Linked DNA regions of Homo sapiens: region 1 is linked to region 2. Evidence: fine-mapped expression QTL. A gene starts in region 2. The other region holds a variant in brackets. All regions are shown on one strand. Distances are from middle to middle. Region 1 overlaps CFAP65 (cilia and flagella associated protein 65). Region 2 holds the start of NHEJ1 (non-homologous end joining factor 1).

Evidence for each region. PIP is the estimated chance that this variant, and not a neighbour inherited with it, causes the effect. A credible set is the group of variants that fine-mapping cannot tell apart.
Region 1: its variant is the best candidate, but not a certain one, in a credible set for the expression of NHEJ1 in lymphoblastoid cells (GTEx, PIP 0.77).

The regions. Positions count from the first base shown.
Region 1 is chr2:219,028,011-219,032,391 of GRCh38, forward strand. CFAP65 (cilia and flagella associated protein 65) reads right to left here. Exons shown (of 35, transcript NM_194302.4): 7 at 3,479-3,648; 8 at 3,096-3,295; 9 at 2,679-2,824; 10 at 1,976-2,198; 11 at 1,393-1,658; 12 at 191-391. Among named protein-coding and RNA genes, the nearest start is that of CFAP65, 11 kb to the right of the region's middle. RefSeq lists an enhancer at 1,602-1,791. The variant C/T (reference allele first, on the strand shown) is at 1,840.
Region 2 is chr2:219,158,995-219,163,375 of GRCh38, forward strand. It overlaps NHEJ1 (non-homologous end joining factor 1), which reads right to left and starts at 1,821. Exons shown (of 8, transcript NM_024782.3): 1 at 1,726-1,821. SLC23A3 (solute carrier family 23 member 3) reads right to left here. Exons shown (of 12, transcript NM_001144889.2): 11 at 3,305-3,400; 12 at 2,471-3,210. The coding sequence ends at 2,915. RefSeq lists a silencer at 1,486-1,605.

The DNA of each region.
Region 1 (4,381 bases), 130 kb before region 2:
TGCATGGGGAAAGACAGGTGGATAGGGCTCAACTGCCATTCCTCTTGCTGTTGCCCCTCCTGGGTACACTCCTGTCTAGAAAGGCTACACCAGTCGCCCTGACTACTAATGGTGCCCATGGGACCCTGGGGGCATGGGATTGCCCAAGAATCACTAGAGAAGGGATATGCAGCTGGGGAGGGCACTGTACCTGGATGGGAATCATGAGAGCCCCGTTCTGGTCCTGTGCCAGCTTCTTCTCCTTCAGCATGGCATCCAGGATGTCAGGGGGGTAGAGCGTCAGGCCCCGGGCCAGGTGTGTGCGGTACCAGGTGAGGTGCTGAGGCTTCAGGATGGCTGGCTTGGTGCTGTCCGAGTGGCAGGTCCCCATCAGGTCCAGGAACAGTGGGTCCTGTGACATTTGTCTGTGTGTGGTGGGGCATGGGAGGGGTGGTAGGGCAAGGGGGGTGCTGGGGGTTGAACTGAGGACAGAAGCTGGGCAGACAGGATAACAGAGGCAGTGGGGCAGAAGCTCCAGGTGGCCAGTGAGCAAGCACTCAGCAGTGGTCTGGCTCAGCCAGGGCACAGCAGGAGTCCAGGGAAGGTCAGGAGAGAGCACCCCGGTCCTTAGGACACTCAGCCATTACCCACCCTTCCTCTCTGCCATGGCCCCTGGGCATTCTCCCACCCACCCTACTGCCAGCCCAGAGGCCTGCCAAACTAGAATTCAGGCCCTCCCAAGGGAGGAGAATATGGGGGGCTGCCTCATCAGGCCTCCCTCTGGGCTTCTGTTCTTTCCTCCATTTCCAAGGCCTCCCCCAGCCCATACTAAACTGTCACAAGAATTAGAGAAAGGCACCCATTCCTCCAGGTACACAGACACAGCCCAAGCCTGGGCACCAGCTCAGGGAGGGATCATGGGTTACATTTCAGCCCCGTTTGCCATCTTGGCCAGGCACCTGCTGGTCAGGGCACAATGTGTCTGATCATGCCCAGGGACCTAGGGTTGGGGTCTAACTTGAAAGCTCTCTGCCCTATGCATGCTATGTGGGGTGGCTCCAGGGAAGAATTAGTCTGTGAAGTCATGGAAGGCAAAGAAAAGGCAAAGCCTGCAGGGCTCAGCGGGAGGGTGGGAGGCTGCGAGTCCAAGCCTCCCTCTCCCAGCCCATGAGCACAGCAGCAGCAAAGCGCCTGGCCTGGTAGCAGGGCAAGACTGGCACAGAGTGATCTGCCCTGTGCCCAGGCTGCACACTGGCTCCAAAAGCCAGGGCTGGGGCCCAGGAGTGGGAGACCACCAGGCAGACAGCCCTAGAAGTTCCAGAATACAGGGAAGTGCCCACCAAGCCTTGTCATCATCAGTGGGCCCCAGGGGAGCCCCTCCTCCCTCAGCCTCATGCCCTCCCCACGACTCACCTGGTGGTGGATGAGACAGGCCACACGCCGAAAGCAGATGATGGGGTGAGTGGGCTGGAAGGCACAGTGCAGGGTCATACGGGCCTTGCCCACCAGCGTCCCAAAGGCAGGCCTGATGGTAAAGACACTCTCCAAGCAGTCGATGGCAAACTGGAAGTGGGCCGTGCAGTCCGATTGGTTCTCAATCCACAGGGGCTGCTCGGAGCGCTCCCCAAGGTTGACCCAGCTGAAGTTGACACAGTAGTGCTGCAGGGACACAGCAGGGCCTGGACACAGGAGATGGGGTATCAGCTTCCCCAAGGATATCTTAGACAAAGTTCCACTGAAGGGAGGTGGTACTCTCAGGGCCAGGCTACAGGCCCAGAGCCCTGGCAGCCTGAGCAGAACTCCAGCATCACTGGATGCCAGTGGGACTGGGATCTCCAGGTAGTCACGGATGATTCCCCA[C/T]AGGGCCACCAGGGGGCAGCAGACACCCAGGCTGAGGCAAGGTGGCCCCGCCTCCTAGGAGCAGGGAAGGAGCTCTTCAGAATCCTCAGCAGGGGCTGCTCCTGTCCCCAGGGGAGGCCCCTGGGGTCACCGGTACCTCTACAGAAACCAACGACTTTAAGCAGGGTCTTGGAGGCACAGCCAGAAGGCATGATGGAGCAGTAGTCCACAGTTCTGGTGTCCAGAGTCTTGGGGTGGAAGAACACCGACACACATTTCTTCTCTCCCGGAAGCACGATGCCATGGGCCGTGGGGCATGAGAAGGCCTGGTCTTCGGCCAGTTCATCCGGGGAAATTTCAATCCTGAAGGGGGCATTTACCTGTGTGGCCAAGCAGAAGGACAAAGGGTCAGGTCACAGAGCAGAGCACTGTATGATGGGACAGTCTACGCATTGTACTGGCGTGCCTAGCCAAGGGGGTGGGGGCAGCTGGCATCCAGCCTGTGCCCCACTGGCCAGACTGCCTCCACCAGGAGGAGAGAAGGGACCGAGTCATGTGCCCTGCGCTGGGCCTGCCCAAAGGGGGCACCTTTTAATTCTCCCCAGGGTACCATCACAGCTAACTGTGGTCCTGGGGTCAGGACAGTCTTAGGGCTGCTCGTGGCTCTGGGGAGCCAGGGTATACCCCAGCCCAGCCCCCAGCTGAGGAGAAGGACACACCTGTTGACAGCTGACATGGGTTACATGAGGCTTGGGGCCAAAGGCATGGAGAGAAAGGGGGGGCATTCTGCAAGGCGGTGATTTTAGGAAATTCCAATCCTGGGGGCGTGAGTCCTGCCGCCCCTCCTGCCTGGTGCCTACCGCCGACGGGTTGTGTAGCCTGATCTGCCTCTCCGAGGTGCAGCCCACAGCAACAGAGCCAAAGTACAACAGCTTCTGGAAGCCCTCGGCATCCTGGTCCTCCGGGCACTTGTGCTTTATGCTCACCAGCAGCTGGGCGCACTTGGCTGGGGCAGAGATGGGGGAGTCTTGGGGGAACCCACCAGGGCCTCTGTGGCCCCAGCTGAACAGCCCCTCGAAGAAGGCAGGTGGCCCCAGGGAAAATTTAGCCTGTAACATCATGGAAGACAAAAGGCAAAGCCTTCTGGGCTTGGGGGAGGGCAGGAGGCCGGTGGAGGCGGGGGCCAGGCCAGATGGGAGGTGGGGGACACTGAGGCCTGGAGGACCCAGAAGGTGCAGGAGGGGCCAGTCTGGGGACGGTGGGAGGTTGGGCCTCACCCACAGCCTGCAGCTGGATGCTGCTCCTCTGCCGGCTGCCCGCCCCGTACCAGCACGTGGCCTGCACCTCGTAGATGACGGCTGTAAGGGGCTGAAAGGTCACCTTGATCTGAGAGGCCTGGCCTGGCTCCAGGAGCCCCGTGGCGGGCAGCATCTGGAATGGGCTGGAGAACTCCCAGGTGAAGAAGGTGGGCAGGTCCCTGGGGGTGGGGGGCAGGTCAGGGCACTGGGCTCCCGGCCCCTGCTCCTGCAGTAGCAAGTCAGGGATGCTGGGCAGAACCTCAGACTACCCTACCCCGACAAGGGTATGCCTGTCTCTCCTGCTTCCAGACACCCTCCTCACAGCTCTTGCTCTCCCCGCCGCACCTCAGCCTCTTCCTCACCCCACATTATCCAGGCAGAAAAAGGCCTCAGTCGTATCTCCCACAGCACACATGGGCAGCTGCAGGGATGGTGGGCGGCAGATCAGCCTGTGGCAGGGCAGGGTGGCCCGTAGGCCGACACAGAACATCCCCTCCGCTTTCTCAAACCACAGCTGGTCCATGTACTCCTTCTGCAGTGTGAGGCGGGGCAGGGGCAGTCACCCATCAGTGGCATTCAGGGACTGCACATCCCGCCCACCCTCAGCCACCCCCAACACAACCGCTGAGGGGAGGGCCAGGCCGTGGCACCCACGTCAGACTCTGAGGGGAGCTGGGCACCTATGTTGTCTTGGTCTCAAACATTAGAGCCTCTTTTGTGGAAAAAGTATTTTGAGGAAATGTGGGTGGGGAGTGGCAGGAAGAGGCCAAGGAATGTAGAAGGGGTTTCTTTTCTTTTCTTTTTTTTTTTTTTTTTTTGAGTCTCGCTCTGTCACCCAGGCTGGAGTGCAGTGGTGAGATCTCAGCTCACTGCAACAGCCGCCTCCCGGTTCAAGTGATTCTGCTGCCTCAGCCTCCCAAGTAGCTGGGACTACAGGCATGTGCCACCATGCCTGGTTAACTTTTGTATTTTTTAGTAGAGGTGGGGTTTCGCCATGTCGGCCAGGCTGGTCTCGAACTCCTGGCCTCAAGTGACCTGCCTGCCTCGGCCTCCCAAAGTGCTGAGATTCCAGAAGTCAGTCACCGTCCCCGGCCACGGAATGTAGGACTTTCTGATGGCCAATATAATATCGCAGCCTTTACCCCCAGCATCTCCTGGGGAACGCCCTCTGTCTAATGAGATGAGGGGCTAAGCCCTTGACGGGGCCTCCCAAGCTGGATTGCTGCTGGAGCGGGCAGCATGTGTGTGTGCCGGGGCGCTCCTGG
Region 2 (4,381 bases):
CAGCTATCATCAAACTCTCAGGGATCGATGACACAAAAAAGAGCTAAGAACCTGTGTCCAGGAGCAACAGAAAAGACCTAAATTTCATTTCAACAAAAACCAGAATGACTAGGAAATCATGAATACAAGGCAGAGCACATCACAGAGGTAAAGACTGAATTAACTTCCACTTAACTCATCCTCCACATTCCCACTCCAGTGCACTGCCACCAATGACAACATGCCCAGCCTGGAACCCCTGCAAAACAACTTTTCTATCTCAGCAGCTAAAGTAGTAGGCTTAACCTAGTAGACAATCAGAACTACGGCTGCTTGACAGAGAATGTGATTGTTTTTCCTGTGGGGGAGAAAAAAATATGTCAATTTCCTTCATTATTCCAGTCTACAAATATAAAATGAACAGAAGTACCAGGAAGGAAAAATTTAGAATGTAAATAATGAAATTCCTTATTAAGTCTGATTAACACAGTCATTTCCCCTAGCTTTTGAAGTGTGCCCTTGTGACTTGTGACATAACTTTATATATATATGCATATATATATGCATATATATATATGCATATATATATGCATATATATATGCATATATATATGCATATATATATATGCATATATATACATATACGTGGTGATCTTTCTTTATGGCATCCTCAAAGCCTTGTGTTTGGAGGATGGTGTTTCCGTCACATTTCCCACATGCTGCTCTTATGGGGACAGAAGTGGTCATGGGATGATTAAGCTAGTCCTAGCCGGACAAGAGCTCCACAATGCCAAAGGTCACAAACGCGAATAAAGTCGCCACTTTCATCTCCCTTATAGGCACTCCCCAGTGTACTCTTAACAGTTGCCAAAATTGGGTTTACTATTCTAGCCCATTCCTTCGGAAAGCCCGGAAGCTCAGAACCCTCAAATTGATGGGTTTTGTTTGTCTGTTGGGTAAAGGGGGAGGAGTTTAAAATGTGGCCAGGAGTAACGGGCCCTATAAAAAGGCCTGACACATTGGGCACCAGACCCCGGCTGCCTGCTCCCACCACACGCGTCCCGTTCTGCGTCCGAAGCTTCTACACTTCATCCTTTTCTTTTTTCCTTCAAGGCTGCCTCTAACATTCACATTAACGAGATTCACGGGTTTATTTCTCTTGAGTGGAGGGGCGCTGAGCGGCATCCCGGCGGAGGGGTCCCTTGAGAACCTTTATCTGCACCGAGTCCGCTCCTCAGCAGTGACCCCTCTGGGCAGTTCCTCCGACGCCCTGCAGAGGGCAGTAGAGGCCCAGAGAGCATCCCGGCTGGGCCCCGCCCGGTCCCCCTGGGACAGCGCGAACCCTAGGTCCCACCACAACCATAGCCCCACCCCAGGAGCCGCCAGGCGTCCCGCTTCCACCCGCCCCAGCTATAACAGCCTTCGCTGTCCGCCTTCCCATTTCTACAGCACTGGCTGCACTGGGGCGCGGCTTCAAGGGGCAACAAAGCCGGCCACCAGCGGCTTCGTCGCACCAAACAGGCGACCAACGAGTACCTTCACTCGAGCCCTACCATCCACGCCGGGCAGCAGCCAGCGGACTGCGCACGCGCGGCCCCGCCCACCCCTCCCCCGGAGGCCTGCCCTGGACCCCGGCAGCGCGCGCTCCCTCCAGGGAGAAAAGGCCAGCGCCAGGGCCAACCCGCAGCGTCTGAGCAGCCCCTCGCTGGCTTGCTCCTGCCCGGACTCGAACGCGATTCCACCTACCGTCAGCGGCCGCGAGAGCGCCCACTCTCTTAGCCGCACGCACGCTTTCCTGCCCGCTCGCGCAAACCGAAAGGCCTAGAGTAAGAGGCCGCTTTCCCCCCACCGCAAGAGGAGGCAGGGTCTTGGGATACAGGGGCGGGGCCTATGCCTGGCGTGGGCGGGGCTTCTGGGCCTGGGACACTGATGAGAGGAGCGCCCCAGTGGCCAGGGTAAGTGGAGGAGAGGCCGGGCAGCCGGCTAGTAGAAGGGTAGTGGCGCGTCTTGGAGTCACGCTGGCCGAGTGGAAAGAATAGCGGGCGAGGCGCAGGAGAGGGGAGCCCAGGTTTGGATTTGTCAAACTTGAGTCACTTCTCTTCCCTCCCCTACCTATCCGGTCTCTTTTTAACAAAATAAGGGATTGAACTTCTGTAGATGATCTCTCAGGTCCTCCACCAGCACTAGAGTTGTTGAAGGAAGGAGTCTCCCAGGCATAAGTCCCATAGTCCGACCTCATCCTTTACCTCTCCTGCTTCATTTCTCCATCATCCCCGTACTTATACTCCCTCACTACTGAGAAATTTGAAACCCCTCACCTATCTTGGACTTTGTACAACCCATGGCTTTGCTCAAGCTGGACCCCGAACCTGAAAACTTCTCTGCATCCATTTTCCAAAACCAAAAATCCTCATTTGTCAAGGCCATCCTCATTGCTTCTTGCATAAAGCCTTTCCCACTGTCCCCAATCAGAATTCATTATCCCTTCCTCTTTGCTCCCACGGCATTATTTTAATCTTTATTACAGACTGCTTTCTGCTTTGCATTTTCGTTAGTAATTACAAAGGTCTTTTTAAACCGTAAATGCCTTGAGACGGCATGGACCCTGTCTTATCCCTGTAGTTCCAGGACCTTGCACATGGGAGATGCTCAGTAAGTATTAAAGTGAATGCTGGGGTTCAAGTGGCATTGATAGTACACAGGCAAAATCTCAATCATTCATGGTCCACTAAATCATGGCCTCTGCTCTGGAACAGTTAGGCCTAATTAAGACAAGGAAAGGCAACCCACCCTATTGGGAAATGGAACCTCTAGACAGTCCCATGTAATACACACACACATATCCTCTGCCTACAAGAAAGAACAGTTTGGGAGCTGACTCTCCAGCAGATGAGAGTTAGGGCTAAATTAACCAGGGCAGAAGTAGGCGTTCTGGTCATTTCTGGGACCTAAACCCTTCTCTGCTAGATTCAGGGCATGGCTCCCCTGAGCCAGGCAGCAAGTCTGCCATCTCTTCTGGCTCAGAGGAGCCTCCTTCCTCATCCCCAGGGTCTTCAGGCAGTGGGCAGAGGCAGTGGAGAGGCTGGGGGATGCAGGGACAGAGGTTTTGGATGGGGAAAGGAAGTCTGTACACTTGAGCAGCCTTCTCCCTGGGCTTCTGAGGCATTCGAGCCTCTTGGGCAGTGAAAGGAGATGGTAGCCCTTGACCTAGGCCTCGCTCAAGCTGTGTGCCTGCAAAAGAGAGGTTTGTCAGGCTATTGCCCATCCCAGGGAGGGATGGCTTCCTGGCCACTCCCCAGTCTGCTAGGGCCTAGCCTCAACTTACCAGGAATCGTGTTCTCTAGTAGGAAGCCTGAGAGTCCAGCCAGGAAGATGGGCTGTGTCAGCAGTGAGTGCAGTAATACATCCAAGGGGCTCCAGCCTATGAAGAGTTGGGGCCAGGCAGGAAGGGAACTCTGATCCTATATCCAAGCCCAGGAGTCTTACCCTCCCAGACCTAAACCTAAGCCTTGGACTAAGGACAGATCTTTCTGAATTGTCATTTCATCCCTCTCACCCTTTGTCTTTCTACTCTCCACTTTCCAAATCCAGGCCTTTCCCACAGGATTCCTGCTCAACACCCTGTGTTCTGATCATCCACACACCCTCCATATATGCTTTGACTATTCCAGGTTCCCTTTCTCTAGAAAGCGTAATATTTAAGTCCCAACCTCATCTCCCATTTTTTACCCTCTATGCTCTATCCTGGGTTTTTCAACCTCAGTCCTACTGACATCTTGGACCAGATAATTCTTTGTTGGGGGTGGTGGTGCAGGGGGGATGTCCTGTACAGTGTAGGATGTTTAGCAGCATCTTTCTATCCACTAAACCCTAGTAACAACTCCCTCTTCCTCCATTTGTAACAGCCAAAAATGTCTCCAGACATTGCCAAATGTCCCCATGGGGGCAAAATCACCCAGTTGAGAACTGGGTGAGACAAATTAAGCAATTTACTGCTCTCAGGACATATCCTAAGACTTCCCACTTCTGTGTCTTTGCATAAATGATGGTTCCTCCATCAGGAATGACCTTCTTCTCACCAAAGATGTTTAAAACTTACCATCCTTCAAGACCAGCTCTGTTACTGGATCACCTCAAACAGAAGCTATCTCTCTTGCCACTGAGCACTGTAGCTCTTTATCTGAACCTTTCCTGTTATTTTCCTACACATCTCATCTCTTGTACTACGCTGTAATAACGGAAGGCATCTTTGTATTCCAAATGGCTAGCATAGTGCTCAATAAATATCTGTTAAACAAATGGATGAAGTATTTACACCAAAGCCCAGAGAAGGCTGTGGGGCCAGGAGTCCGGGCAGCCTGAAGCCTCAACTTGCTTTCCTGCTACTGAGCAACGCCTCTTC